Homo sapiens: one gene and its partners. The protein of the gene in region 7 interacts with the protein of the main gene of each other region in a pairwise test. Each region holds a gene or a part of one and is shown on either strand. Other genes may lie near its edges.

Region 1 (3,195 bases), on a different chromosome or scaffold from region 7:
GCAGTTCCGTACTCACAGGCTGGGATGCCTCTGGAGCATGCTCTGATATTTGATAGCTGCCTCCAGGACCAAGGGATGTCTTTTTTCTGTCTTTTCTCTGAAGAGACAAGTAGAACACTGATTTGTGCCCAAGCTTTCACTTTTGGATTGTAAAGAGAAGTTCTCTTCTACCTTATTAGGAGTTAGTAATTGTTCTGTCAGCTTTTTCTAAGTTGTCATCTAAGTCATTAAGGCATTTTTAAGTGAATTCTGTGAGGTATTTTTAGTCAGGTATTTACTATAATTTTCATCCTTACATGGGCTTTGGAATCAGCCACGCCTGAGTTTAAGTCCTATCTCTGCTATTTACTAAGACAGATTAACTTCTCTTGAACCTTGGTTTTCCAGTCTGTAACATGGCACTCTTGGATTGCAGGGAAAATTTAAAGTGCAAAAGTGGCACTTAGGCTCTCAATACATTCTCTTCTGTGCTTCTTCTAGGAGTGGGGGTGGTCCTAGAAGGGAACAGGCTGACTGATAAAGCCAATTTCCCTTAGAGGGAACTTACATTTTAAAGGGAGAGATGGGAACGACTCTTCCCCACATGTACCTAAGTGCACCCTTTAGGGTCAGGTGCGTTTAGGTAAGAGTTCAGGCTAGGCCAGAAAAGGGGGCTCAGGACTCAAGCTCTGGCACCACTACTCACCTCCCAGGCCAGGGGAGGCATGTGGGAGGTGCTTCGAGTGTGCACTCAGCCCTTGCTCATGTCCCTGTGCCCACTCTCCCATCCTTTTCCTAAACTTCCTCCCTCTAACACCCCAAAATGGCTGACAGACCAAAGAAGTCAGGAATCCAACTTAGACTCTGGAATAGACTCTGGACTTCAGTTTGCTATCTTTGAGTACAAGTAGGGTAGGTTAAAACAAAAGCAAAAACCTAGTCTCCTCAGAAACCACCACCACCACCTCCTCCTTTGAATCAGTTCAATAAGCAGAATCTTTGGCTTCCCCAGAATGACATGTGGTAAAAGGTAAGTTTGTAGTGAGAGGCCCGTAACTGTTATTACCTTTACAAAAAGTATTTTGTTAAAAGAGACCCCCGTCCCCACACTTCCCTTGTACTTTCTTTTTAAAAATTATGAAAGACAGGGGCCAGGCATGGTGGCTCACGCCTGTAATCTCAGCACTTTGGGAGGCTGAGGCAGGCAGATCACCTGAGGTCAGGAGTTCAAGACCTGCCTGGCCAACACGGTGAAACTCTGTCTCTATTAAAAAATACAAAAATGGGTCAGGCGCGGTGGGTTACACCTGTAATCCCAGCACTTTGGGAGGCCGAGGCAGGCGGATCACGAGGTCGGGAGATCGAGACCATCCTGGCTAACACAGCGAAACCCCGTCTCCACTAAAAATACAAAAAATTAGCCAGGCGTGGTGGCAACGCCTGTAGTCCCAGCTACTCGGGGCTGAGGCAGAAGAATGGCGTGAACCAGGGAGGCAGAGCTTGCAGTGAGCTGAGATTGTGCCACTGCACTCCAGCCCGGGCAACAGAGCAAGACTGTGACTCCACAAAAAAAAAAAAAAAAAAAGAAAGAAAAATACAAAAATTAGCTGGGCTGGTGGTGTGTGCACGTAGTCCCAGCTACTTGGGAGGCTGAGGCAGAATTGTCTGAACCTGGGAGGCAGAAGTTGCAGTGAGCCGCGATCGCACCACTGCACTCCACCTTGGGTGACAGAGTGAGACTCCCTCTCAAAAAAAAAAAAAAATTACCAAAGACATGACAGTTATCACCTTATAGTAAAAAATGTAATTATTAAAAATCTTTTCCCCCAGCCTGGGCAACATAGCAAAACCCCATCTCTATTAAAAACATTAAAAATTAGCTGGGTGTGGTGGCATGTGCCTGTAGTCCCAGCTACTTGGGAGGTTCAGGTGGGAGGATCACCTGCCCAGGAAGTCAAGGCTGCAGTAAGCCATGATTGCTCCACTGCACTCTAGCCTGGGTGACAGAGTAAGACCCTGTCTCAAAAAAAAAAAAAAAAAAAAAAAGAAAAAAAAAATCCTATCCCTAGATGTAGAAGAGGATATTTAGAGCTCTTTTAAAAAAAAATTAGAGAAAGGGTCTATGTTGCCCAGGATAGAATGCAGGGGATAGTCACAGGGGCGATCATTGCATACACCACATTCCAGGCTTGGAAGCTCTTTTCTTTAAACCTGCTGGAGAATCCCATGGCCCAGGACTGCAGGTTCAACTAAAGATCCTACAGTGGCATCAATCTTATATTTTTGACAACCTCCTATTTCATGTTCATTGCTGTAAGTTCTCTAAGGCTATGAATTTACACATTTCTGTTAAGCACTGTAATGCCAAGTCACACGGGCATCCAGTGACACAAAGTCTAGCAGGGGCTCTTGAATATAGGGTGTCATATCTTGGTAGACTGAAGGCATGGTGCAGGACAGTTGAGTACACTTACCTGACCATTCCCTATGTCCAAGCACATGTGCAGCTTCGACTCGCCTCTGTGATAACGATAGACATGGGTTGCCCCTCCTTCCTCTGGCACAGATGAATAATATTTCTAGAGACGTAATGTCAAAGATGTTAGCTAACCAAATTGTCTTGTCAAATTTTCAAAAAACCCTGATATTTGGGCAAAGTGCAGTTAAGGAGGGAGGCAAGAGAGCAAAGGTGAATTACCTGCCCTCTTGACAGGCCTCTGAAGTCATGCAACAAACCTTAGCCCACCCAAAGTGGCTGCAGAGAAAGAAATGCATTTGGCATCCCCGTGCTGCCACCTGCTGCCTCCATAGGGCAAGAACGCTGGCTAACTAAAGGTGGGCAGGACCATGCTCTCTGCCAGGTTAAACAAATTTCACATCTTTGCCCCCATGTCCAATGCACATATCCTTTCATTTCCTCCCCTAAAAAATGTGGATGAACGGTTCCATGTTTATTGTCTAAGTCTCAGACCAGGACACGGGAAGAGAGGGGTACATTTTCCTGAGATTTAGAAACACAGCAGGAAATGAAACAAACCCAAGAGCTGCTCTGCAGCCCTTTTCTCTGTGCTTCCTGCGCGTGGGGGAGTGGAGGGAGAAGTCTCTAATTTAAGAAGAATCTTCCGAAAGATCGGAAAACAGTTACATTTCTCTTGTCTGCTTCCTTCCTCCCCCTCAAAGTTAGCCTTAGACTTGCCCTTGATAATGACTAATGAC
Region 2 (3,995 bases), on a different chromosome or scaffold from region 7:
AGACTAGAGACTTAGAGTCTCAAGCTAGAGGGACTTCAAAGAATACCATGTGGCCAGGCACGGTGGCTCACGCCTGTAATCCCAACACTTTGGGAGGCTGAGGCAGGTGGATCACCTGAGGTCGGGAGTTCGAGACCAGCCTTGCCAACATGGCAAAAATCTCATCTCTACAAAAAATACAAAAATTAGCCGGGCGTGGTGGTGTGTGCCTGTTATCGCAGCTACTCAGGAGGCTGAGGCAGGAGAATCACTTGAACCTGGGAGGCAGAGATTGCAGTGAGCTGAGATCGTGCCATTGCACTCCAGCCTGGGTGACAGAGTGAGACTATGTTTAAAAAAAAAAAAAAGAAAAAAAGAAAAAACTCATGGCAGGCAGAGTGACTTACTCAAGGTCATGCAGGATTGGGATTAGAACTGTGTTCTCTGGACTTCACTCCAATGTCCTTCCTCACCACACCAAGCTGCCTCACACACTCCCATCTCCTCCCTCTCACAAGTCTAGAGCACCTGAGATGCTGATCCAGGCATGAATGGGCTCTGAAGTCCATAGACCTGTGCTCCAATTTCAGCTATTTACTGTGGGCAGTCACTTAACTCCTCTGAACCTCAGGTTCTCAGTAAAATGTGGATAGCCAAAGTAACTATCTCAAAAGGTTGCTATAAGTGTTACATTAGCCAGGATAACATATCAAGTGCCTAGAACACAGTAGGAATTTAATAAATGGTAGCAGTCATTTATTTTAGGTGGTAGGATCCCCAGACCTGAAAAATAGTCCTTGCCCAGCAAAGCCAAAAGAAGGGAAGAGAAGTAGGTGCCAGCAGCCCCCACAGTCTTTCATTTCCTCTCATCCAGTCCCAGGCCCCCTCAGAGCTCAGAAGGTGATACAGGTGGTCAGAGGAACCCAGTGACCAGAGCTTCGGGGAGAGCAAGGCAGGGGGGCCAAGCCAATCAGAAAGGGGAGGGAGAAGGTGCAGGGTGACAGCCAGGCTCCTGCCATGGACAGGGAGCAGTGAGTCAGGTCTGCAGAGGTAAGAGGAGCAGCCGTGTGGGTGGGGGGTGGGGGTGGGGTGAGTCACAGCCCAGCCCTGCCCAGCCTAGGAGGAGAGGGCCAGGAGAATCCAGGCTGTTCAGGTCATGGGCAACCCCAGAGGGCCACTGGGAGAGGATGAAGTATGGGAGCCCAGGCTCAGTTTTGGAGTATGTGCTTGATTTATACAAAGTAGAGAGAGTATCCAAGGAAAGCTCCTGGGAATGAGGGAGAAGGGCAGCTGAGGAGCAGGTGGAACTAGAACAGGTGGGCATCTGTCCAACCAAATATAGTCATTCCAGGGTACAGTGCTGAGTCCTTGCTCTACTCTGGATAATCTCCTCAGGTTTGGAGGCAGGAGAGCTGGCAGGCTCTGGACTCTGCCCTGTACCTGTACTTGGCCACAGCCAAAGAGGCTGGTTGGAGGATCCTACACAGCCCTCCCCATTTGGAGTCTCCTCAGGAATGCAAGGTGCTCAGTAAGCTGCAGGTTTCCGGTAGCATTCACAGATATCCAGCATTTTAATACAGCCCCCTAGGGGCTCAGTGCTCACCATTCACAGCCTCATCTAGGGCGGCCAAGAGCTCCTCATTCCCCTCTGTTTCCCCAATCTGGAGACAGGTGGATGGAGGAGGCCAACACTGCACACTTTCTAGAGATGTGCCTGGGCATCTCCGCATGTGTTACCTCTATTTTATATATAATAGTCATTTGATATGGGAATTAGAACTGGCGCCCATTTTTACATAGTAGCTCTAGGGAAAGCATCTCAACCATTCCTTGTTCCTATCACCCAGCTTACCTAAGAAGAACGTAACAACCCCAGACAACACGTCTGATTCAATTTGCCCCGGAGTACCCAGAAGGGCAGCAACCCAGCAGGTGAGGCAATGACAAGAGAGAGAGAGTGGGACCTATATTCCAGGATCCCCCAGTGCCCATCAGGCCGATCAGCTTTTCCCCGAGGTTCTCCATGAATACCCTCAACCCACAGTATTGCCCAAACAGCAAGAATCTTGGATCTGCTTATTCTTCAACAGCCCACCAAGGTCCAAGGATGGGGGGCCTCCACACCCACCTCTCAAAAGGTCCAGATCTGCCTCTTGCAAGTCACGGACTTTCCGGTCCCGGCCGCCTCCTAGGGGTAGCAGCTGGTCCGTGGATACAGTGGGAGGGTCCGGGTTGCTGGTTCCAGCAGCTAGCCCTCTCCGAAGCCGCTCCAGGCTCTCGCCAGTCACCAGTGCCGAGAGAACTGCGGGCGAGAGGCCAGGCCGCATCAGACACCCGCCCAGACCCCTGACCAACACGCACCGATGCCGACGCCCGTCCGCCAGAGCGCAAGGGCCCCACCAAGTGGCCCGTGCCGGGTGCGCTGCGGCGACCTTCCCCCATGCCCCCAGCACAACGCCCCCATCCCCCCGATCTCCGGGGGCGTCGGCAGCCCTCTTACCTGCAGCCAGAAAGAGCTTCAGCACCACCGACGGCAGCAGCTTCATGGTCCCGCACCGAGAGGAGGCGGCGAGGCACCAGTCACTTTCGAAGCGGCGGCCACTGGGCGCTGGCACCAGAGCTGGGCGGCGGAGCTCAGGAGATTCCGCCGGGCACCGTCTGCCGCCCGCCTCTGCGTGCAAGCCTGGCCGGGACCCAGGCGCAGCTCGCTCTTCTTGAGTGTCTTGTCTTGCTCACTCAGCCCGCCCGCGCGGCCGCCCGACCCCGCGCGCCTAGGTCAGGCCAGCCAGCAGCGTGGCCCGCGTAGCTCCTTCGGCCGAATGAGCGCTGCCCGGCTCGCGGCCGGGAATAAGGCTCCAGGAGGCGCGGAAGCTCCGCCCCGCCCGGCGCCGCCCCCTCCCTCCTCCCGTGCTGGGAAGCTCGCCCGGCTCGCGGCGCCGGCAGCGCAGCCCCCGACCCCGCGGGCGCGGCGGAGGACTGGGCGGGAGGAGAGGGCGGCGTTCACAATTTTTGGGACCAGGCCGAGGCAGCCGCGGCCTGATTGTGGGTAGGGCTACTGACCGGCAGGTGGCGGAGAGCGGTTCCTACCTTTCCCCAAACGCCTGTCACTCTGCAGCCTTGTGACTGACTGCTGAGCTGAGTTCTGTTCCGGGCCTGGCCTCTTGCTTCATCTAAGCCCCATACCAGGGGTCTCCATCCCTGTCACCCTCTAAGTTTCAGAAGCCCACCTTTTGGCCTACCAACACGGCAAGTATCAAATAATAATTAATTCATCTATCATTTAAAAATTAGACACGTGAATGCCAGCCGTTCTCATAAACCCGAGATAACCAGAGTTGAAGTTGCAGGCACTTAGTATCAATCCAGCAAAAGCAAAGGAAGTTAGTACTCTCTTAGTCTCTGGAGTGGCTTCCTCCCATCTTCCCTCAGGGGACATTAGGATTTTTGAACTATGGGTTGTAATTCCCAGGCTTCTGAGATTGGAGAGACACAGGTTGTGAAACAAGCCTTATTCTTTTCCTTGCCTTTGACTGCCACCTTTTTCCTCAACATAAAAAATGAGCCACCCTCCCATAGGACCCAGCTGGCTAACCTAGATTGCTGTTTCACAGACACTAGGTGTTTCTCTTCCAACCCATGTGCTTTTGCAGGGGTCTTCTGGAGTCACTGTCCTGACCCAAAGAAATGAGTGTCTCAGTAGGTATTTCAGTTTCCAGGGACGTGCTGGGGAGAGAGTTGTTTGACACAGGGCTGGGTTGGCTTTCAGAGCCCTGAAATTGTGCCAGATAGAGCACTTGCCGGATTCTGCCTGTGTGTAGGGATAAAAACAGGCCTGCTATTTATACACAGTCTATCCCACTGTCCCTCCCTATCCCCACCTTTGCAGGGGTCAGTCTGGCCCTGCCCTCTTAACTTGCTCCAGTAACCTAGGCCTAGGTTTCCATAGTGCACTGGAATCACTACAGACCTGAGTTTGAATCCTGCCTTTGCTACTTACTGTGTGACCTTGGACAAGA
Region 3 (3,500 bases), on a different chromosome or scaffold from region 7:
AGATAAACAGAAAAATAAGCACATGATTTCAAGTTATAAAGACAAATACTCCAACATAGAGGATTTTAAAATGGTTATCTTGGGAGTGAAGAAAGATTACTCTATGTACTGTAGGAACGACCTGTGCACTTTACTTTGTATTTTAACCTTAAAAATGCAGGTTTAATCTGATGGTTAGAAAATAACCCCTATGATGAGCTGAAACAGGCAAACATAGGACCTGTGTCTTGGCCTCCCATATCTGCTTTAGATAAAGTATAATGCAATTTCTACATTTTTTAGAAAGTGTCACACACGAAAATAAGTGAAGGGGGTAGTAGATAGTGGGAAATGGCAATGGTTGATTACTGAAAGGAGAGGTAAAACTCACTAAGGGAAATAGTAATGGGAGCTAATGCTAGAAATGCTGACTTGATAGTGGCATAAATCCACATGGTTCTGCAACTGTTTCCAGTAATTCAGACTGCAGATCTCCTTTGTGGCCAGAGAGACCATGAAGTCAACAGTGACAGAGTAAGAGATGTGTGAGATCACAGATGAATAGAAAGGAAGTGAAAGCAAGAGATGGCTGATAAAAACAAACACACTAAAAAATGGGGTAATACTCTTGATGAGGTTAAAGAGTAGGTATGGTACACAGTAACACACTGATTAAGCAGAAAAACGGGTTTAATTTTTTTTTTTTTTTTTTTTTTGAGATGGAGTCTTGCTGTCTGTTGCCCAGGCTGGAGTGCAGTGGCTCGATCTCGGCTCACTGCAACCTCCGCCTCCTGGGTTCAAGTGATTCTCTTGCCTCAGCCTCCCAAGTAGCTGGGATTACAGGCATCTGCCACCATGCCGACTAATTTTTGTATTTTTAGTAGAGACAGGGTTTCACCATGTTGGCCAGGCTGGTCTTGAACTCCTGACCTCAGGTGATCCACCCGCCTCAGCCTCCCAAAGTGCTGGGATTACAGGCGTGAGCCACCGCGTCCGGCTGGGTTTAATATTTCAGAAGCGAAACTGTTCTGGAATACAAGGCTCACACCAAGGAGAAGGCACTGAAGTTGAGGTGGCCAAGGAAATAAGGTGGGCAAGACTAAAAGTAGAGAGTAATGCCATGAGCCAAATGTTAAAGTCCCACAAACACAAAACAAAGGAATGACCAGGAAGACGGTAGACAGCAGCAAAGACCAGGATGAGGGTGGTAGAAGACACACAGCAGGCCTTAGACAAAGTATTCTAGACAAGGACAGAGGCATCGTGCTGTTGAAACAGGAGTGGGGAACAGGAAGAATGCCCCGGTGGGAACCTCAGAGTTCAAGGTACAGGCTCTTCTGCAGGGGCATCATGAAGTGTCATCTGGACTTGGCTAGTCAATGGATGCTTTTGCTTCTGAGCTTCATGACAGCCTTTACCACAGGAAAGTATCCTTTCTTTCTTCCCTCACTTCAAATTAAGAAATAATTCAATACCTTGTCAGTGGAAACACCTAGTGATAAATAATTGAAACTTACCCCTACTTTCCGTAAGAGATCCCCCACGATGTTTAGTGCTGATATCCTAGCAGAGGGAGTTAGTGGACTGGTACCAAAACCATTTGGTATAGCTAGAGAAAAATAAAAGCTGAGTGATTACACTTGCAGTTCCCTTTACATTTGGGTTTTGTTGTTGATGTTACAAAGTAGTGTAACACTCAATACAATATCAACAAACTACTTCAAACTATGGATAAAGTATAGATACCATAAATAGGCTAAACCACTGTCCAATTGGTGGATATTTACATTATATCAAATTTTTCGCCATTATAAGTAATGCTACAAGGACATATACTCTTAAACATCTAGACAAGTATTTCTGGAAAAGAGATTCCTAAAAATAGAACTGCTGGGTCAGAACATATGCCCATTTTTTTCACCTTAACAGACACTGCCAAAATGCTCTCTAAAAAGCCTGTGCTAATATCAGCAATCTATGCGGTGGTGCCCTTGATAATATTAGATATTATCTTTTTTTTTTTTGACAATTTGATAGTCACGTTTTTTAGTTTCTATTTCCATAGTAACTAGTCATTTGAATCTCTTCTGAAAATCAGCTGTTTAGTCTTTGTACATTTCTCTACTGGTTTGTCTTTCCTGTAATCAATTTGTAAGAACTCTATACATTCTGGATGTTCACCCTTTCTCTTATAGATGTTCTATCTCTCAGCGTGACATTCATCTTGTAAACACTGTGTTTCGGTAGGAGAACCTTTGGCTTTTCCATCTTAATGTCATAATGTTTCCCATACTTTCTCCTAGTATTTTTCTGATTTTTTTACATTTAGATCATTTAATTCACCTAGAAATTATAGTTGTCTATAAGATACATATCTAAATTTTTTCCTCCAAATGGAGAGCCAATTGTCCTAGTATCATTTAGGGAAAACTCATCTCATCTGAAATAGCACTATAACTATAAACTAAATTCCCTAAATATATGAATATATTTCAGTTCCATTGAACTATTAGCCTATTCTATCAGAAGTATGCTACTTTATTATAATGTTAAAATATATTTTGAGATCTCAAAAGGCAAAGATCCCTCTTGTTATTAGCCCATTTCAAATTTTTCTCAGCTGTTCTTGCACATTTACTATTCCAAAATAATTTTAATATCAACATATCAATTTTTTAAATCCTATTAGGATTTTTATTAGAAGTTGAAATTACAGATTGACTTGGGGAGAATGGATATTGTAAGAAAATTAAGTCTTCCCATTCAGAATCATAGTATTTACCATGATATTTACCCATATCTTCTTCCACACTCAGTAAGGTTTTCAGTCGTGCACATTTCTTAATTTTTAAGAGATAATATGACATCATGATTAACGGCTCTTGAGCTGAACTACTGTATTCAAATCCAGTTCAGCCACTGGGTAAGTGACCCATATGTAAGAGGGGGCAAATAACAACTACCTCATCATAAAGATGTTGTGAAGTTTAAATTAATGTACTTTAAAAATGCACGTAGTAAGTACTCAATAAAGGTTAGCTATTATTTTTTATGTTTGTTTTCCACAGAGTGCTAATCAGCAACGAAAATACTTGTGTGGCTTTTTTGTTGTTTATTATCCTTCTTCTCCTCAAGAATATAATCTCATTGAAGGTAGGGGCTTTGTCTTACCACTGTGCTCCCAGCATCCAGAATAACACATGACACATAACAGGCGCTCAACGTGATATAAAAAACCGCTGTACTGTTCTTGGCAGGGATTTCTAGATCTCATTTTTCCCTATTCAAGTTTTACATTTTAGGTGTTATTAAATCTGTGCTTTTATGGTAAGTTGCTTTAAATGCTTTTTAGAAACAAACATTGTAGGCTGGGCATGGTGGCTCATGCCTGTACTCTCAGCACTTTGGGAGGCTGAGGTGGGTGGATCACCTGAGGTCAGGAGTTTGAGACTGGCCTGACCAACATGGTGAAACCCCATTTCTACTAAAAATACAAAATTAGCTGGGTGTGGTGGCACACA
Region 4 (3,500 bases), on a different chromosome or scaffold from region 7:
CTCATTTTGTAGATGTGGAAACAAGAGGTCCAAAGAGTACGTCATGTTTATTTTGAGTCCTTCACATATCTTTTTCACCATACTGAACACAGAGAATTGTAATTATTTCACATTAGAGTATGAAATTTGCAGAAATGCCATTACAAATATATCTTAATTGACACAAACTTGATCAACAGGAAAGCTAATTTAAAAGCTCTGTGAAAATTATTGAATACAGTGAATCAAAAGAACATTCTGTAAATAATTAATATTCAGACAAAATCTCCTCTAACATATACCTCCAAATAAATGAATGAAACACAGATTTTACCCACCTCCCGTATGACTTGCTGCAACTCATCTTGCTCCACATTTTTATGCATTTCCTCAGCAGCTGGCATTGATGGGAGTTTTCCATGCCCTTCTTCCACTTCAGATTTAGGTCCTACAACTTCTGGGGCTCCTTCAGCTGCATCAACTTCCTCAGAACTTTCCAAATCTGGAGGTGTCTGCACAGAGCCTGTTCTAGAAGGAGCTGTTGGCGTTAGAGCCACCGATGCTCGGAACACTTTCTTCCTTGCCACTAATGGGGTTTTGGATTTGCCCACTGAGGCAGTAGAAGGTACTCCAGTTCTTCTGTTAGCATGAGAGGGACCAGAACATACAGAAGATGATTCTGATGTTGCTTGGGAAAAAACAGATTCTGAGCTTTCTCCAGGAGGAATTTCAAATCCCATTTCTCCAAGTCCCAGGCCCAATTCAGACTTCAGGTATGACTGCTCCTGCATCAGTTCAGTGACCTGGAGATCATAAAAAAATGTTATTCTTCTCTCTTGGAATTAAGATTGGTAGCTAAAAAGGTTAAAGTCCTGGTTGTCATTATTGCCTAAAATCATGTAATTTGTAAAGACATAAATCTATTCCATTAATTTAATAACTACTCAATTTTATTTGCAAAAATGGTAAGTAAAATTTAAATTCCTATTGAGATGAAGCAACAAAACAGGTAAACAGAATACATAGTAGGATGAAATTTTACTTGTTACCACCAAAGTGTCCAAATCACTTGTAAGGAAGAGTAACTAGTGAAAAATAGTTACTCATAGTGCTTTTGCCCCCAAATGAACCAATCTGTCTAACACAATAAAGACAGATTTCTGTTAAAAACGTGGTCATGTTACAGCTCTAACTACCTAAAGAACCAGGATCAAACTGTGAAAGCACATGTCTCCTGAAATGTAAATTAAAAATCAATTTTCTTTTTTTTTTTGAGATGGAGTCTCACTCTGTCACCCAGGCTGGAGTGCAATGGCTTGATCTCGGCTCACTGCAACCTCCGCCTCCCGGGTTCAAGCAAGTCTCCTGCCTCAGCCTCCCAAGTAGCTGGGATTACAGATGCCTGCCACCATGCCCAGCTAATTTTTGTATTTTTAGTAGAGATGCGGTTTCACCATGTTGGTCAGGCTGGTCTTCAACTCCTGACCTCAGGTGATCCACTTGCCTCAGCCTCCCAAAATGCTGGGATTACAGGCATGAGCCACCACACCTGGCTTATTATTTTTTAAAGACAGGGTCTTGCTCTGTCACCCAGGCTGGAGTGCAGTGGCACAATCATAGCTCACTGTAGCCTTGAGCTCCTGGCCTCAAGCAATCCTCCCGCCTCAGCCTCCTGAGTAACTGGGACTACAGGCACATATCACCATGCCTGGCTGATTTTTAAATTTTCTGTAGAGAAAGGGTCTCATTTTGTTGACTAGGCTGGTCTCAAACTCCTGGCTTGAAGCAATCCTTCCACCTCAACCATTTAAATAAAGTGCTGGGATTACAGGCATGAGCCACTGTACATGTTTTTATGGTGCATTACCTCCTTTAGTCAGAAAGATAAATCACTATTGCAATTCAGGTGGCTTTCTAGTGGCTTCAGACAGCAATGGACTTTCAAAGGTGAAAGTCACTTCCAATCAACAATAATTTATCAAATTATGTATTTAAAATAAACATATATTTCATCTAAACTAGGGAAACTATGTGTCTGAAATGTTGTATCATTCCCTTCCCCAGTGATTTAAGAGGAAAGAAGCTTACTGGTTCCATTACATTCAATGGAGAAGGGCATGACAAGTTATCAGCGCTTCTACTGCCACACATTCCCTGAAAAGGTAAGAACAATATATATATGTATATGTGTGTGTATATATACATACATGCATATATAATTATAATGTACATATATATTTTTTCAAATCACAAGACTTTTATAATAAAATTAATTGGCTAATTAGTGCCTGGAAGCATCCCTTTATGTCACAAAGGTTACTCTCAAGTGTCACAGATCCCATAAAATGCATTATTGTGAGTTAAAACTGATACAATATGCAAAAAGGATGTTCTAGTTCTCCCGTCACCAACATACACTTCTCAGAATGATAAATCAAAACCATGTTGAAAAGTACATTCATTAGCAATACAGAACATCCTTAGTCTATGCTATACATATATGTGTTTATACACCATTGTTTATTCTACTTCATTTATAGTATATACACACATAATTGTATGTGTGTATATTCATCCATTTCTTTTTAACAAAATCAAATACATTGTTAAGGTAACAAAGAATAATTCACTATTTCAGCATTTCAAAGCAACATATTCTACAACTTCAAAGATATTTGCAAAAATAATACAACTGTTGAAGTTCAAATGTTATGGAAAGAAACATTAGAAGTATGAAAAGTGGTACAAAAACATGTTTCTTTTTATTCTCTTGGATATATATCTATATATTTAGGAAAATACATATATGTATGTGTATGTATATATATGTATGAAAATATACAGGTATCATTTGATTCCTTTAAAAACAAATGGAAAAGAATCCAAAATAAAGAAAAAGTTTAAAAGGAACACTTTTTTATTTAAAGGCATGAAAGAAAAAAAAACAGCAAAATATGCATCTGTGTTCTCTGCAGTTACATGCAACAATTAAAATTTACATTAGTCATATGTTAATTCACTAGCATTTTTCCTTTAAAAACCCTCAACTTTCGTATAAGCCCTTATTCTTTCCTGTTATTAAAATTTATCATTAAAAATTTTCAACATATTTCTAAATATACTATTTATGACAATTATTACAAATTGTACATTCAACTGATTTGTGGGAAAGCTCCTTAAACAGTATGCATGCTTTTAATACCATTAAAATAAATGACTTGAAATGAAGGCACACGTCCTAAATTATTGGAACATTATAAATAAACCTTTGGTGAAAACTCCGACCACCCTCCAGGTAGCGTACCATGAGTGCGGAGGAGCGGAAGGGTGAAGGCATGCGCACAGCACGAAGCTGCTCCTCCAGGCCCAGCAGGCGCTCCTCCAGCTGCAGTTCCAGGTCCTGAAGTTCCATTCGGACTGAATTTCTCAAACCCTGGAGCTGATCAACTTCAAACCTATTGGTATGGTGAAGGGCACAAAATTGGAAAAATGCAGTTTGGAGATTCCTAATCACAAATCTT
Region 5 (3,500 bases), on a different chromosome or scaffold from region 7:
ATTGTGAGGAAGTATGAGAGGGATCTGTGGGGTAGTGGTGATGTTCTGTTTCATGATTTAGGGGATGGATACACAAGTGTGTTCACTTTGCAATAGTTCATTGCACTATATACTTATATTTTTAGCTTTTCTGTATATATATTAGACCTAATTTAAACGTTTTTAAAATAGGCTATTTCAGTAAATTCATATGAGAACTTATATAGAATGTATTCATTTTTCTATTCAAAGATTAGCTTAAAATTTTATGAAAACATTTAATTTCAAAATAAATTAGCCCTTTTAAAGAGGTTTTGATATAGTTAAAAAAAAAGTTCACAGATGTTTGGAATCAGAAATACCTGTGTTTAGATCCAAGCTCTGACTTTTTTTTTTTTTTTTAAGACGGAGTCTTGCTCTGTCACCAGGCTGAAGTGTAGTGGCGTGGCTCTACAACCTCCGACTCCCTGGTTCAAGCAATTCTCCTGCCTCAGCCTCCCAAGTAGCTGGGATTACAGGCACGCACTACCATGCCCAGCTAATTTTTGTATTTTTAGTAGAGACAGGGTTTCACCATGTTGGCCAGGATGGTCTCAATCTCCTGACCTTGTGATCCGCCCGCCTCAGCCTCCCAAAGTGCTGGGATATCAGGTGTAAGCCACCATGCCTGGCCTTTTCTTTTTTTTTTTTTGAGACAAGGTCTCGCTCTGTCACCCAGGCTGGACTGCAGTGACATGATATCGGTCACTGCAACCTCTGCCTCCTGGGTTCAAGGGTGATTCTCGTGCCTCAGCCTCTCAGGTAACTGGGATTACAGGCATGCACCACCATGCCTCGTATTTTTTTTGTGTGTGTGTTTAGTAGAGACGTGTTTCACTATGTTGTCCGGGCTGATCTCCAACTCCTGTAGTCAAGTGATCTGCCCGCCTCAGCCTCCCAAAGTGCTGGGATTATAGACATGAGCCACCACACCTGATGTCTGATGCTTATTTATTATGTGACCTTAGCGAAGTGTGGTAGTCATTAGTGCTGGTCTATCTCTATACCTTCCCCAGGCAAGGTAGGATTGCACTTCCCGCTCCACTTGTGATTAGGTGGAGCCATGTGACTACTTTTGGCCGATAAGTTATGAGTGGAATTTAAAATAACTAGTACGTATGTTGAAAGAGGTAAATAAATGTATGAAAATATAAAGCATTCAGAAGACAATTGTCCATAAAAAAGAACCAAGTGGGTATCCTGGAAATTCAAAATACAATGTCTGAAGTTGAGAATTAGATTTGTTACAAACCAGATGGCACACATCAGAAATCTGAATGAGAAAACTCAGAAGCAAGTTAACAGAAAATATCCAAACTGAATCACAGAAGAAGACTAAAAGAGAGCATGGGAGTTATGTGAGACACAGACAAAAGTTCCAACATCGATGAAATTGGAATCCTGGAAGAAGAGAGAGGGGAAGGGCAAGAGAAATATTTAAAGAAAAAAGTAATTGAGAATTTTCCAAATCTGATGAGAAACTTTAAATCACTGAATCAAAAAGTTCACTAAGCCCAACAGGGTGGACACAAGTGCACACACAAACATACACACAAAACCCATCCAAGTACATTATAGTCAAGTTCCTGAAAATCAAAGATAAAGAGAATTTAAATGCATTTAGAGAAGACAGGACATATTTCCTTCGAAGGAATCATAGAAGACTGACAGTTGACTTTTAGACAAAATTATTGAAGCTAGAAGCTAATGGAATAATGTCTTTAAAGTGCTGAAAGAAAAAAAAAACCTAGCTGGAATTCTTTACCTGAAAATATTTTTCACAAAATCAAGGTGCTTTAAACCAAAGAAATAACTCAAGCTAAAGGATTTTATTACCATCAGAATTGCATTTCATGATATACTGAGGGAAAGTCTTCAGGCTAAAGGAAACGTATCCATATGGAAGCGTGAAACTAATGCACAGAGTAAAGAGTGCTAGAAGGTGTAACAATATGAGACAATATTGACTATTTCAAATAACAATAATAATGTCTTGTGGTATTTGTAACATACATAAAAGTGAAAGATATGGCAACAGGACAAAGCCAGAATGGGTAAATACAGTTAAATTGTTGTATGGTTTGTACACTGTTTTGGAGGTAGTAACAGTACCAATTTAAAGTAGACTGCTAAATCAGGTTTGCATATTCTGTTGTCTTGGGTAACCACCAATAGGAAGGTAAAATTAAAAAAAAGCTATAGTGGAATAGTAAAGTAATACTGGATTAATCCAAAAGAAAATGGGAGGGAAGAATAGAGAAGGAGAGAATAAGTGGGACAACTAGAAAAGAAATAGAAAAATGGGGATTTAATTTACATTAAATGTGAAGACCTAAATTTCCCATTTAAAAACTAAATGTTGGCAGATTGGATTAAGTGAAGTATAGCTACATGCTGTTTACACACGAGGTAAACTTTAGGTGTAAGAACACAAAAAAAGGTTAAAATTAGTAGGATGGCAACAAAGACTGACAAACAAAAGCCTGATATGGCAAAGTGACTATCAGATAAAGTATTCTTTAAGGCAAGGAATATCAGAAGAAATAAAGACATTTATGATGAATGGGCCAGTTCAACAGAAAAAAAATGTGTAATAATATGCCTAAATTTTTATGCACCTAACAACAAGTGTACACACACACATATGGAGAGAACAAAAGGAGACAAAAGCAAAAGGGGAAATAATTGGAGATGTTGAACAAAACTTTTAGTAACTGATAAAGTAAGGATTGCAAAATAAGTAAGGATATAGATACAACATACTTCAGCACTTAGATTTAATTAATATGTGTCACTACATACAACTACTGCAAAAACATAGCCATTTAGGCTCCCATGACCATAGGCAGAGCGTTGGAGTTGGCCTGTGGTTGTGTTTGCCAACTCCTGGATTAGGCCATGAAAGAAGTCGTAATAAATATTAAAAGATTGAAACCAGACTGTATATGTTCTTTAAACACTGTGGACTTAAACTAAAATTAAATAGCACATAAATAGAATATCTTCAGATATTTTGAAATTAAGCAATATATTTTTATATAATGATGGGTAAAATGAATCACAACATAAAGTAGAAAATTTTCTAATTATCTAATAATTATTAGAATTATTAGAATTTCTAATAATTATTAGAAAATTTTCTTTCTTTTTTTTTTTTTTTTTTTTGAGATGGAGTCTCGCTCTGTTGCCCAGGCTGGAGTGCAGTGGCACGATCTCAGCACGCTGCAAGCTCTGCCTCCCAGGTTCACATCATTCTCCTGCCTCAGCCTCCCCAGTAGCTGGGACTACAGGCACCTGCCACAACGCCTGGCTAATTTTTTGTATTTTTAGTAGAGACAGGGTTTCACTGTGTTAGCCAGGATGCTCTCGATCTCTGACCTCGTGATCTGCCCGCCTCTGCCTCCCAAAGTGCTGGGATTACAGGTGTGAGCCACCGCACCCGGCCAGAAAATTTTCTATTTTGCCTGAATGATAATGAAAAT
Region 6 (3,500 bases), on a different chromosome or scaffold from region 7:
CTTGCCTGAACTAGAGGAGACTGATCAAAAGAACTCTGAGGGCCACCAATCAGCTGTTCACCCAGGCCTACTCATGAAAGCTATGGGTGGTGTTCACATTTGAATTAGTTGTCCTCAAATTTATGTGATGAATCAAACCCTTATCGCTGGGTTTCTTTTCTCTTTGCCAGGAGAGGGAAGTACGGGGTTCAGTTAAGTCCAAGAGGATCAATGTCTTGTTGGGACCAGGGAGTTCTGAACATGCACCCACAGACCCTGGAGGTTGCCTGCCCTGTAAGATGCAATCCCTGGGCTTCCCCAGCTGAGAGGAGAACTGGAGTACATGGCAGAGATGCTGCTCACCAGATACCCATGACCCTTTACATTTCCCAGCATCCGTGCATCTGGGTAAGGTCAATGAGTTATAAGAGAAAGCGATGGAAATCTCCTCCAGGTCAGATCCTGGAAACATCCTGCAGAGTCTCCCAGCCTTCTCTTTCCCTGTCATGGTTATCTTAGAGGCCGTGTATTTCTCATGATGTAGCTACAATATGGAGGAGGGCCATCTGACCTACATAGGAGTTTGTTTGAGCAAGAAATGAACCTTTATTGTGTTAAGCTATTAACACAAGATGAGGGACATTTGTTACTATTGCATAGACTATCCTATCTGGGCTAATATGAGTACCCTTAGGACTCTCATTGGGGCCCCTACCTTGAGGTGACTGTCAGAGATCTGGACTTTGTCACACATCTCCTGGAAGAGCTTCACACCTCCCTGGTCCAGGAGCACACAAACGAACACCCCACGCTTGTTGGCTGCCTCTAGAATGTCACAGAAGATCTCCACATCCGTGAACACATCCATCAGGATGACCAGGACCTGGGCCAGGGCAGAGTGCTCAGTTACCAGAAAGGTCAGGGGCAGGTGCTAACTGGTTTCACCCAAACTGCCTGAGTCCCAGTGGGCCTGGGAGAGCTGTTCCCATTGGGCCAGAGGGGAGAGGATGGGGTAGAGTGGGTCTGACTGGGCAGGATTAATGGAAGGAAAAGGAAGAGCTGGAGTGGAGGCCCCTGCGCCTGTCCTGATACCATCTCTCCAGTCCCACCACCTATCTGTTGGCCCCTATGCCCATTGTGGGAGTGGGGAGTGCAGAGGAGGAAGGGAAAAGTCTAGAAAGAGAAGGAGAGCAGAGAAGAACAAGAAGAAGCATCTCAACCGGTTCCAGAAGAGGAATAAAGTTAAGGTTATGGATTCTCAGCCACTTGGAGCTAGAGGGCACACTATGGCCACTGATTTTCAAATGCTGTTAAGCCGTGGAATCCTATCCTCAAACAAAATCCCATGTGGAGGCACCGTATATAAGCGCCTAGAGCAAGCTGCTCCCCGTGGGATGGAGAAGGGAGTCACGCTCTACCCACAGCTACTGCATCATGTGTCACAGTAGAAACTGGGGAGGGGAGTTCTAGACCTTCAGTGAGCAGGAGAGACATCTGTGTTCCTCCTGCCAAGCATTCATTCTCCCTTCTTCTGTCAACAGCATCCCAATCTGACTTTAAGTAATTGCCTCCCCTCCACAATCAATGTGGTTTGGAAGGGTCTATTGCCATTCTTTGACTGGATATGGGGAGACCACATGACCAAGGCTAGACCAATGGGAGCATGGCATCCCCTGTTGGCCACAGACATTGGTCCAGAGGTGGTCACATGATCTAAGTTATTCTAATAAGAGTCAGCCCAGGACTTTAGCTGGGACTCCTGGGAAAAGGAGGTGTTCTTTCTACGAGGTTGCTTAGCTGGTATTTTATAAGCAATGGCTGCTGGCAACCATTTTTGCTACCTCTTGGGGAGAGCCTGCCTGACAATGAAGCCATCCCTGGAGAAAGCAGCCAGGAGGTAGAGACAGAGTCCCAGCATTGTCATTTGGACACCTGGTTCCAGCCATGCCTGAGACCAGTGCCACCCTTGACTTTTCCACTGTGGATGTTAATGAATGTTTCTCTTCTTCTTAAGCTTGTTTGGGTTTACTCTCTGTCACCCAGTCATGAGTCCTTTCTAATACCTTAATTGTGATATACTGACAAGCAGCTTATTAGGCAGTCATTAAAAATGTTAATTACTGCCGGGCGCGGTGGCTCACGCCTGTAATACCAACACTTTGGGAGGCCGAGGCGGGCGGATCATTTGAGATCTGGAGCTCGAGACCAGCCTGATCAACATGGTGAAAGCTCGTCTCTACTAAAAAAAAAAAAAAAAATTAGCTGGACTGGTAGTGCACGCCTATAGTCCCAGCTACTGGGGAGGCTGAGGCAAGAGAATCGCTTGAACCCAGGAGGCAGAGGTTGCAGTGAGCCGAGATCGCACCACTGCACTCCAGCCTGGGTGACAGAAAGAGACTCTGTCTCAAAATAAAAAAATAAGAAAATACATAAAAATTTAAAATGTTAATTTTCTTTCTTTCTTTCTTCTTTCTTTCTTTCTTTTCTTTCTTTTCTTCCTCTCTCTCTTTCATTTTTTTTCTGTAGACATGGGGTTTCACTATGTTGCCCAGGCTGGTCTCGAACTGTTGGGCTTAAGCAATCCTTAAGCCTCAGCCTCCCAAATTGCTGGGATTACAGGAGTGAGCCACCCCACCTGCTCCATTATAATCTTATGGGAGCACTGTCATAGATGTGGTCTGTTAGTAACCAAAATGTCATTATTCCGTACATGATTGTAGGTAAGCCCAAAGCAAAAACTAACAGTCATGTTAGGATGGGGGATGTGAACCCAGAAAATAAAACAGGGCTCAGTTAATTTAGAAAGTTTATTTTGCCAAGGTTGAGGACATGCCCGAGGAAGTCCTGACGACATGTGCCCAAGGTGGTCGGGGCACAGCTTGATTTTATACATTTTAGGGAGACATGAGACATCAATTAATAGATGTAAGAAGTACTTTGGTTCAATCTGGAAAGGTGGGACAACTGGAAGCAAAGGCAGGAAGACTCAAAGCCAGGAGGGAGCATCCAGGCCACAGATAAGTAAGACAAAAACTGTTGCATTCTTTTGAGTTTCTGATTAGTCTTTCCAAAGGAGGCATCAGATATGCATCTATCTCAGTGAGCAGAGCGGTGACTTTGAATAGAATGGGAGGCAGGTTTGCCCTAAGCAGTTTCCAGCTTGAGTTTTCCTTAGTGATTTTGGGGGCCAAAGATACTTTCCTTTCACAGGGAATACGGCCATTCCCTTTCTTCAAGATTACCTGTAATAATAAGTTTCCACTATCTTTCTAATCATTGCAATATATTTTTTAAAACCACCGCCATCTGGGAAGTAGCCAAGGAAAGAGAGGTGTCTTACTGGCAGGCCAAACTGATGGCTGGTATCCACTTGGAATCAACTTTCTGTGATGTGGATGGATAGCTGGACAGGGGAGGGAACTCCTCAGAGATTGCTCACCCTGGGCAGGAAATCGGAAAAGATGTTCTAATAATGAGGCTGTGATCATTAGAACCATGGCCCTGTAATCACACAATTAATT
Region 7 (3,500 bases):
GATAGCTGCAGAGCAGGGTAGGGGTCAGCGGATGGAAAATTACTAAGAGGAAGCTCAGGAATAAGGGATATTCTTGCTAAACCGACCTAACAAAATTATTGATGAAGACAAACCAGGGTGATTCAAACATCAGTGGGGGCATGGTGGAGGATGAGGAGCCTGATCAGATATCAAGGATGAGGGGTTCTGGCTAAACAGACTTAGCAGGATTCTTTTGCTAAAACTGGATTTTACAAGGAAGTGCACAGGTAGGCCTAGGAGAAGGTTCAGAAGCCTGGCTAAAGTTTGGCCAAGCAAATAATCTGTGTCATGCTAAATTTTGCCAAATTTCTGCTCATAAAGGTTACAGTAGTCCTTATTCCTACCAGCCATCCGTGAGAATGGCAGCATTCTTCAGGAGCATCTGAAGCTGGTTATAAAAAGCTCAGCTGTCCTTTTATAGAATAGAGTACAGCGACCATTTTCCTGAAACGTTACATTTCATTCATTCATTTGGCAAATACACTTGCACAATTCAGCAGCAATAAAGCATAACAAGTTAAGATCCCAGGCCGAAGAAGTGGAGAGAACTTGGTTCTCCTTCTGGTTTATGTTTTGCACTTGCCCTAAGACCTTGAGGACATCACCTCACTGAGTTTCATTTTTCTCAGCTATACAGTTAGGGCTTCAATACCCACTTCACAGAATTCTACAAAGTACCTAACACAATGCTTGGCCAGTGCAATCATGTGGATGCTGGGAATTTGTATTATCTCATCTGACTCCAAAGAGCCCTGGAAAGGAAGCAGGTAGGGACAGATCCTTCCCATTTCATGGACTCAGAGAAGAAACGGCCATGTTTCTTGGTGTCCTGAGCTTCACTTCAGGAACTGGTAGTCCAAAGGAACTGTATCGTTCAGAACGGAGGTAAAACAGGCTTTTGTGGGCTAGCCTGTATCCATCCCCCTCCCACCTCCCCTCCCACCACAGTACCTGTTTCTCTTGGAAGGCAAGTTCCCAGTTCCAGTGGCAGCCAGAATTCTTTCTATGCTCTTTTAGAAGGTGGGAGATGCCTGCCTAGACTGTTCAGTGGTCTTAAAAAAGAGACCATAAAATTCATGGTTGCATAAAATATAGTTTTCATAGATTTAAATTGCATTTTAAATGCACTAAGGCTTCATCTTTGAGCTTTTCAGAAATGTGGGATTTCAGACTCCATCTTTAGGGTTGCCTTATTTAGCAAATAAAAAACAGTGTGCCAGTTAAGCATGAGTATGGCCCTTGGAATGTTTGGGGCATAATTATACCAAGACATCTTATTGTCTTTCTGACATTTAGATTTAACTGGGCATCTCATGTTTTATCTGGCAACCCTACCCACCTTGGGTCTACTGAATCCAAATCTGGATTTTCACAAGATCCCCATGGAATTCGTGTGCGAATTCAAGTGTGAGAAGCATTGCATTGGGAGCCTTGCCATCAAAGCCCTGAATGAATCCTTTTTGTAACAAATCTGTTGGTAAAATATAATGCACTATTTATAAAGAGCCTGATTATTCCCAAATCAACCATTTGCACACATCTGTGTGTTCATGTGTTAGGTTTTCTTAATACAGGCTACCCTTGCACTGTTGTCAGTTGAAGGGAAGAATTCCTTGCTTTGGTAAGAAGCCCTAGCCCCTCTCAAGGACCTATTTTCCTCATCTGTAAAATGGGCTACATCCTTAGCATCCGTGCCAGCCTGTGGTGACCAGCTGAGGTGGCCCCAAGGGGATGCATGGCTAGAGCCCACGCCAGGTCCCTCCTCAGCCTCCTCACAAAGGACCGAATGACTTGGCTCTGTGATCCCATCCCCCAGAGACTTTGGTGTGACTGTGGTGACCCTTGGCATAGCGCACCCCCCCGACTGCCTCCTCATCTCAAAACTTTCCAAACCATGACTTTTATAGCAGGGCTTTAGGAATCGCCTGGCTCTACCCTCTCACTTCATGGCTACAGATACTTGTGCCCTGAGAGAGCAAGTGAATTTCCCAAAGCCAACAGCAAGCCCTCTGATTGCTGCTCTACCAAACCAAAATGATTTCAGTTCTCATGAAACCTAAGGCCTGACTAAGGAAGATTAAGAAACCTGGTGGTGGTCGGGTCCTGTAGTGGGGTGGGAGGAGGGGGGAGGGATAGTATTAGGAGATATACCTAATGTAAATGACGAGTTAATGAGTGCAGCACACCAACATGGCACATGTATACATATGTAACAAACCTGCAGGTTGTGCACATGTACCCTAGAACTTAAAGTATAATAAAAAAAAAAGAAAGAAAGAAACCTGGTGGTGGTCATACGCCTAGTTTGTCTTGGTTGTGTGGTCTTGGGTAAGTCATTTCTCTCTCTAACCTATTCCCTGCCCCCACCCCTCCATAATATGGGGAATACACATTTTCCTGTTCCCCTAGGTCTCCTTTCTACCTGGTTAAGGTTTTATTTTAAGATCCAGTGGTAGATCTTGGTCTGTCAATTGGTCCTAGAGTGGAATGCTTTATGAAATCACTGGTACATGTGTTAGGTCAGAGACTTAATACCATGACATCATGAAAGATGTCTTTAGACCCTTTCTCTCCTCATTGCTAACAAAGATTTTATGAACTGTGTTTCAGCTGGACAAAAAAGATGTTCTAGAGCATTCTAAGATCGCCTGGGGCTTTTGTTAAAATGCAGATTCTGGTTCCACAAGTCTGGGGTGGGGCCTGAGGCTCTGCATTTCTAGTGATGCTGATGTAGCTGGTCCAGGGATCACACTTTCAGTTGCAAGATTTGAAAACAATCTGTTATTAGTGTAGAATCAATACTTATGAGATAAGGGACTTAAGAGGCAAGTCCCTTGTTCAGGGCTAAAGACCCAGTGACAGTAATAGGGTCTAGCCTGGAGCCCAGATCTTTTAATGTCTTGTCTTTGACATCTGACTTATCTGTCTATTTTATCTGCAGCTATGAGTTTCTAGAATCTGAACAGCCCTTAAAATACTTTGCTGCTTAATTATGTAGCAAAGTAGGTTCTTCTTTAGGAAAGAGAGTGACTCAGTAGAAAGCCATTGGAAGGGGGAGAAATACAGCTAGCATTTGATCAACCCTTTCACCAGAAGTTTTTATACTTGAGATTATAAACATTCTTTCTGTATTTATGGATGCAAACTACAGTCCTGGGGAGGCCCCAGTCTGTTTTTGTATGCCTCTGAGCTAAGAATGGTTTTATAGTTTTAAAGTGTTGTTAAAAAACAACAATAACAAACAAACAAGGAAGAATATGCAACAGAGAGGGTGTGTAGCCTATGGAGCCTAAAATATTTACGGTCTGGCCCTTTTACAGAAAAAGTTTGCTGACCCATGATCTAGAGTACCCAAAGATTTGCATGTTCTTTTTTTTTTTTTTCTAGTCAGCAAGAGGCCCAGCCTTATAGCTTTGAAATATAGTGAGGTCAAGACGTAGGGGAGGCAGCCTGCGTTGGTGGGAACTGCCCAGACATCT

What was found.
Region 1: the proteins of GSN (region 7) and AKIP1 interact in binary tests that used the Homo sapiens proteins (3 or more experiments, as listed by UniProt).
Region 2: the proteins of GSN (region 7) and HBEGF interact in binary tests that used the Homo sapiens proteins (3 or more experiments, as listed by UniProt).
Region 3: the proteins of GSN (region 7) and NDEL1 interact in binary tests that used the Homo sapiens proteins (3 or more experiments, as listed by UniProt).
Region 4: the proteins of GSN (region 7) and ITPRID2 interact in binary tests that used the Homo sapiens proteins (3 or more experiments, as listed by UniProt).
Region 5: the proteins of GSN (region 7) and LONRF2 interact in binary tests that used the Homo sapiens proteins (3 or more experiments, as listed by UniProt).
Region 6: the proteins of GSN (region 7) and FAM83A interact in binary tests that used the Homo sapiens proteins (3 or more experiments, as listed by UniProt).

Annotation. Positions count from the first base shown.
Region 1 is NC_000011.10:8,914,189-8,917,383, reverse strand, and holds part of AKIP1 (A-kinase-interacting protein 1), read right to left. Parts: intron 2,559-3,195; coding exon 2,454-2,558; intron 98-2,453; coding exon 17-97; intron 1-16. UniProt on the Homo sapiens protein: Enhances NF-kappa-B transcriptional activity by regulating the nuclear localization of the NF-kappa-B subunit RELA and promoting the phosphorylation of RELA by PRKACA.
Region 2 is NC_000005.10:140,343,804-140,347,798, forward strand, and holds the start of HBEGF (proheparin-binding EGF-like growth factor precursor), read right to left. Parts: upstream 2,801-3,995; 5' UTR 2,526-2,800; coding exon 2,480-2,525; intron 2,282-2,479; coding exon 2,108-2,281; intron 1-2,107. UniProt on the Homo sapiens protein: Growth factor that mediates its effects via EGFR, ERBB2 and ERBB4. Required for normal cardiac valve formation and normal heart function. Promotes smooth muscle cell proliferation. May be involved in macrophage-mediated cellular proliferation.
Region 3 is NC_000017.11:8,452,884-8,456,383, reverse strand, and holds part of NDEL1 (nuclear distribution protein nudE-like 1), read right to left. Parts: intron 1,589-3,500; coding exon 1,497-1,588; intron 1-1,496. UniProt on the Homo sapiens protein: Required for organization of the cellular microtubule array and microtubule anchoring at the centrosome. May regulate microtubule organization at least in part by targeting the microtubule severing protein KATNA1 to the centrosome.
Region 4 is NC_000002.12:181,919,230-181,922,729, reverse strand, and holds part of ITPRID2 (protein ITPRID2), read right to left. Parts: intron 3,435-3,500; coding exon 3,284-3,434; intron 2,134-3,283; coding exon 2,068-2,133; intron 783-2,067; coding exon 318-782; intron 1-317.
Region 5 is NC_000002.12:100,316,002-100,319,501, reverse strand, and holds part of LONRF2 (LON peptidase N-terminal domain and RING finger protein 2), read left to right. Parts: intron 1-3,500.
Region 6 is NC_000008.11:123,189,165-123,192,664, reverse strand, and holds part of FAM83A (protein FAM83A), read right to left. Parts: intron 863-3,500; coding exon 695-862; intron 1-694. UniProt on the Homo sapiens protein: Involved in mitochondrial maintenance during adipogenesis. May be acting by playing a role in the maintenance of normal mitochondrial function.
Region 7 is NC_000009.12:121,274,662-121,278,161, forward strand, and holds part of GSN (gelsolin), read left to right. Parts: intron 1-3,500. UniProt on the Homo sapiens protein: Calcium-regulated, actin-modulating protein that binds to the plus (or barbed) ends of actin monomers or filaments, preventing monomer exchange (end-blocking or capping).